Linked DNA regions of Homo sapiens: region 2 is linked to region 1. A link means that fine-mapping ties the variant in region 1 to the plasma level of a protein whose gene starts in the linked region. Region 1 holds a variant in brackets. A gene starts in the other region. All regions are shown on one strand. Distances are from middle to middle.

Region 1 (2,899 bases):
GCCTGGGCAGGGGCAGGCGAAAGGGGGGCAACTGGCCAAGGCCGCCCCACCCCACGGTCCCAGTCCAGGAGCCTCTGCCTTGGTCCCTGCAGCCTCCGCACCCAGCTCCTCCCCCGTCCCGGCGGCCAGGACCTCAGACAGGCCCTGGGGTGCCTCCCAACGCCGCCCCGCTTACCGGCGACCCTTGTCCTGCGTCTTGCGGCTCTGCTCAAACAGCGCCGCCTCATTGAAGGAGACCCGGCGGCCCGTGGAGCTGGTGGACAGGAAGCGTTCGGTCTCCGCATCCTGGCACTCGGGGTCCTCTCCCCGGAAGTCGGGGTCTGCGTGGAGAGGCAGGAGAGGGTGGGCCCCGGGCGGGCCACGCCAGGCGCCTGGTCCCGGGAGGGCTGCTCCTCCGGGCGGCCACGGCAGGGAGGGCTGGGGCCGCGGCACGGGCGGCCGGGCTGGCGGGGCGAGGGACACTCGTCCATCCGCTCACACACTCACTCGCTCAGCACGCGCCTGGGCCCACCTACGCCTGGGCGTTAAGGAAACAGAGATGAGTCGGAATCGAGCTGCGCCCAGTCTGGTGGGGGAGACAGACAGACACAGACGGTCAGGCAGCCCGAGGGGGCGGCGGGTGGCCGAGGGGCGGATGGACAGGCGAGCGCACAGCCAGGCTGGCCAGCACCTCACCTTGGGCTGGGTGGGTGCCGTTGTCCAGGTAGGTGGTGGTGGTCTTCTCCGCTTCCTCCATGGCCCTGGGAGAGACGTTGGGAGAGCCCAGTGGCACGGAGGGCCCAGATAGCCACAGTGGGTCTCGGCTCTTTGCCCCAAGCCAAGCCCTGCGCATCACCCAGTCTCCAGAGGCATAGCCCACCCTGTGACTCAGAAGCCAGTGAGGTAGACCCCCCACCACCCGATGGCACCCACAACCACCATGCACCTGCCCAGCCGAGGTGGGGGCCTCGCACCTGTTGAGGCGCTGGTGGACGTCCCAGCAGCGCTTGCAGAGGAGCAGGACGCCAGACAACACCACCAGCGTGCCCCCCACGAACAGCGACATCACCACCACCAGCAGCACGTAGTTGTCCAGGATGGGGTCTGGCTCTGCCTGCGGGTGTGCAGGGGGGGTCAGGTGCTGCTGGCCTGGACGACCTCCTGCCCCTCCCACCTGTCCCCTGCACCCACCGTGGGGCGTCCAGTGGCATTGTCCCACGACGTCGTCAGGGCTACTGTGGCAGTGGTGGTGGTGGTGGTGGTGGCGGCTGTGGCCATGGTGGCTGTGGGCTGCATTCTGAACTGGGGAGGAGGGCCCTGTGGGGAGGAAGCCTGGTCAGCTCCAGCTAGACCTACTTCTCCTGCAGGAGCCACTGCAGACAAGCTGGGTCTTCCCTGCAGGAGCAGGAGCCCACACAGGGGGCAGTGACTCATGGAGAGGTAGCAGAGCCGGAGGCAGCCTCCACCCGGCTTGGCTCTGCCCAGCGGGCCCCGGGGGCTCTCTCTGGACCTCCATCTCCCATCCCCATGGCGGGGGAGGAGGCCTGGCCCTCTGAGGGTGCGCCTGTACCCATCACAACTGCACACAGCCG[G/A]TGCGGCCTGTCCTGCAAGGTAGCGCCAGGCCCTGGAGCTCAGCGCTGGGCAGGGCAAGCACTCGGAGGAATGGGGACGCCAAGGCGGTGCAGCCGGCTCGAGAAGGACTCCAGACGCCCTGTCCGCCCCATCACGGGGGTGGGGGGCTACCCCCACCCCAAGAAGTTCAGCTACACCCTGGCAGGGCCCACCCGGCCATGGTTGGGTAGAGGGAGACCTCCCGCTGCCTGCGCGCCAGGGAGGGTGCAGGGGCTGGGCGCGTGCTCCCGGGTCACGACTCCGGGAGGTGGAGGTCTCCCCGGTGCTGAGTGCTGGTGGGAGTGCAAGGGACAAAGAAGGCGCATCTGTTCCCAGCCCCGGAGAAGCTGGTTCCCATGGCGACTGCGGAGCAGGCCGCGGCTGGGGGGGCGGGTTGCCAGGGAGCGGCGGGGAGGGGGCGCGGGGGCGGCGGCCTGGGGGGGGGCGGCGGCCTCGGGGGGGCGGGCGCGAAGCCGCAAGATGGCCGCGGCCGCCTCCCCGCCGTGCCCAGCCCGGGCGCCCGGAGCATCCCCGGCCGCCTTACGCTCGGGGGAAACTGAGGCGGGGCGCGGCACCAGGGAAAGGAGCCGCCTGGACGCTGTGCGGCGCAGCCGGGTGGGGAGGCCCGGGAATCGCAGGGGGTCGGGGCTGGCGCCGGGGTGCTCGGCGGCCCCAGGTCAGCACCGCACGCGCGAGACCTTTCCCGGAGCGAGAGGAGCGCACAGGCGGCAGCCGCTCCTGCCCTTCCCGGACTTCCGCCCACACGCGACAGCGGGAAACTGAGGCCCAAAGCCGGGCAGGGTCCCGGCGGGGGCTGGTGTCCTCAGCGCTCCCGGTCACAGGCTGCCCGGGCCCTGGTACTGGGGGAAGGGGCCGCATATGTAGGTCGGGAAATGAGTTCAGGCTGGAGGGGGTGGGGACAGGCGCAGGATGGTGACCGGAGGCCGGGGAAGATGGCAGGAGGCCGAGGGGAAGAGGGGGGCTCCTGGGGGAGGCGGCTGCGGGAGCCGAGGGCGGAGGTTCCCCACGGGGCAGCACCGCGCCCCCGAGCCGGCCAAGGGTGGGGATGGCGAGCCAGGGGAGGCAGGGACCCGACGCCAGGGCTGAGCCGAGACGCCATCGTCCTCGCCCGACCTCACAGGGAGAAACTGAGGCTGGGGCGGGGCCTGAGCGGGGGTCCCTCTGGAGGCAGCCGGGTGGGGGGCGCAAGGCCCGGATCTCGGTCCCCACGCCCGCCGGACTCCTCCGCGCCCTCCCTCCGGCCGCTTAGCCCACAGCCGGCTGCGATCCCCGGCCTGTCCCCCGTCCG
Region 2 (2,899 bases), 43 Mb after region 1:
GGCAGAGCAGAGGTGGTCTCAATCATCACTGTGTCACCAACATCACCCAGCACACACAACTGGGCACTGGGAATGTGTGCTGGAATGAATGGAGGATGCTTTTTAAAAACTAGGCTAAGCCAGGTATGGTGAGTCACATCTGTAATCCCAGTACTTTGGGAGGCTAAGGTGGGAGGATCACTTGAGCCCAGGAGTTCAACACCAGCCTGGGGCAACATAGTGAGATCCCATCTCTACAAAACATATAAAAATTGACCAGGGATGGTAGCACACAACTGTGGTCCCAGCTACTCAGGAGGCTGAGACGGGAGGATTGCTTGAGCCCAGGAGTTGGAGGCTGCAGTGAGCAATGATCATGCAACTATACTCCAGCCTGGGCAACAGAGCGAGACCCTGTCTTAAAAAAAAAAAAAAAGAATAACACACTTGGAATAAACATGATCCAAAAAAGTACAAAACATACACTCTGGGGCTGGGTGCAGTGGCTCATGCCTATACTCCTAGTACTTTGGGAGGCCGAGGCAGGAGGATCATCTGAGGTCAGGAGTTTGAGACCAGCCTGGCCAACATGGCAAAACCCCATCTCTACTAAAAATACAAAAATTAGCCAGGCATGGTGACGCATGCCTGTAATCCCAGCTACTCAGAAGGCTGAGGCAGAAGAATCACTTGAACCTGGGAGGCGGAGGTTGCAGTAAACTGAGATTGTGCCACTGTACTCCAGCCTGGGTGACACAGCATCTAAAAAAGAAACCAATCCAAAAACTACAAAATATTCTTGCAATTATAGGTGACATATTTAAATGGTAAGACAACCAATGTTCATGAATGGAAAGACAGAGCAAGACCCTGTCTCAAGAAAAAAAAAAAAAAAAAAAAAAAAAAAAAACAGGCTGAGCGCGGTGGCTCACACCTGTAATCCCAGCACTTTGGGAGGCCAAGGTGGGCAGATCACCTGAGGTCAGGAGTTCAAGACCAGCCTGACCAACATGGAGAAACCCTGTCTCTACTAAAACTACAAAAGTAGCCGGGCGTGGTGGCGCATGCCTGCATTTCCAGCTACTCCCTGAGGTGGGAGGATCGCTTGAACCCAGGTGGCAGAGGTTGCGGTGAACTGAGATTGCGCCATTGCACTCCAGCCTGGGCAACAAGAGCGAAACTCCATCTCAAAAGAAAAAAAAAGAAAAACACGAGGCTAAGAGCTTTTTTTTTTTTTTGAGACGAAGTCTCGCTCTGTCACCCAGGCTGGAATGCAGTGGCGCGATCTCGGCTCCCTGCAACCCCTGCCTCCCAAGTTCAAGTGATTCTCCTGCCTCAGCCTCTCCAGTTGCTGGGATTACAGGTGCCCACCACCACGCCTGACTAACTTTTGTATTTTTAGTAGAGACAGGGTTTCACCATGTTGGCCAGGCTGGTCTCAAATTCCTCACCTCGTGATCTACCCACCTTGGCCTCCCAAAATGCTGGGATTACAGGCGTGAGCCACCGCACCCAGCCTGCCTCAGAGCCTTCAAGTGAGTCAGCCACAGGTGAAATCCCACCTCTGTCTATTGGCAGACTTGCCTCTTTTCCTGGGCCTCTGTTTCCACATCTGTGCAATGGGAACAGTTATTTATGGTGGCTGCTGAATGAGGCAGTGTGTGTTTGAACAAACCCAGGGGAATTGTTCAAACAGAGGCTGTTATGACTATTGCTACAGTGACTGCTGTTGTAGTCACGCTGAGTGAGAAAAAGAGGTTGAAGAGGGTCAGGGGAGGAGTCCTGGGAAGTTCCCCAGTCACCCTGAAAAACTGGTTCAACCTCTGTCTGTGCTCCCATCCCAGGGAGTATAGGTGGAGCCTCCAGAGCCCATGGACAGGGCATGCTGGGGCTGGGCCAGCCCCAGCGGTGTCTCTAAGGCACCCCTGGGATCCCCACTGAGCTGGCCTACTTCAGACAGCCAGGGCCCACCCCTCTGGCCCCCTTAGTGTCCAGCTCGTGGCCCCTTGGCATTTCCACAAGACGCCAAGATGGAGATTCCCATGGGGACCCAGGGCTGCTTCTCAAAGAGCCTCCTGCTCTCAGGTAAGGAGGAAATAGACCCTAAAGGCCAAGGGGAGAAATGGGGACTCAGCCCAGAGATTGAAGTTTCCTCTTAGAAGTAGGGAAAGATTACCTGAGAGGATGAAATTAGAATAAGATGGGGGAGGGGCAACAGAATCACAGCCTCATTGCCATTTTATCTATGGAATTTTCTATAATGTTAGGACCATGAAGGCAGGAATTTATGTATGTTTGGTTCCCTGCTATATCTCCAGTGTCTAGAAATTGAAGGAAGTTTAGATGTATTACATATAGTTGGTATTATAGCTTATATATTACATATGCCTATAAGTATTGGTTGAATAAATGAATGAATGAATGAATTCAGAGAGTCCATGTGTTTAGAAGCAGGCCACACAGCATCTCAAGGTAGAAAAACCTCTGGATCAACAGGATGGCAAATCTGTGGTAACCATGCCTGTGTTCCCACTCCTGCACCCAGGGCAGACATCACTAATCAATCCCAGCATTGTTTCCAATGAGCAGCACTCAGAGTCCTTGCTCCCCGCTGAAGATCTGTATCTAGAGAGGAGCATGCCATGGTCCCTGGCAACACCCCTGATCTCAGCCCTTCCCTGTAACTTCCCACAGCCTCAATCCTGGTCCTCTGGATGCTCCAAGGCTCCCAGGCAGCTCTCTACATCCAGAAGATTCCAGAGCAGCCTCAAAAGAACCAGGACCTTCTCCTGTCAGTCCAGGGTGTCCCAGACACCTTCCAGGACTTCAACTGGTACCTGGGGGAGGAGACGTACGGAGGCACGAGGCTATTTACCTACATCCCTGGGATACAACGGCCTCAGAGGGATGGCAGTGCCAT

Alleles and levels. Positions count from the first base shown, and alleles are read on the strand shown. Strength reflects both the effect of a copy and how common the allele is.
In carriers of allele A in region 1, the plasma level of the protein whose gene starts at base 1,560 in region 2 tends to be lower than with G alone (weak association).

The links. PIP is the posterior inclusion probability: the model's chance that the variant is causal. The UK Biobank Pharma Proteomics Project read protein levels with antibody pairs (Olink). The fine-mapping took linkage between variants from a reference panel, not from the people measured, so its PIPs are less certain.
Region 2: CEACAM19 starts here. The variant in region 1 is fine-mapped to the plasma level of the CEACAM19 protein (UK Biobank, PIP above 0.99).

What each region holds. Positions count from the first base shown.
Region 1 is chr19:1,234,826-1,237,724 of GRCh38, forward strand. CBARP (CACN subunit beta associated regulatory protein) reads right to left here. Exons shown (of 10, transcript NM_001393918.1): 2 at 1,171-1,296; 3 at 954-1,093; 4 at 676-740; 5 at 176-320. The coding sequence starts at 1,275. Among named protein-coding and RNA genes, the nearest start is that of CBARP-DT, 1.7 kb to the right of the region's middle. The variant G/A (reference allele first, on the strand shown) is at 1,572.
Region 2 is chr19:44,669,923-44,672,821 of GRCh38, forward strand. It overlaps CEACAM19 (CEA cell adhesion molecule 19), which reads left to right and starts at 1,560. Exons shown (of 8, transcript NM_001127893.3): 1 at 1,560-2,064; 2 at 2,674-2,899. The coding sequence starts at 2,010.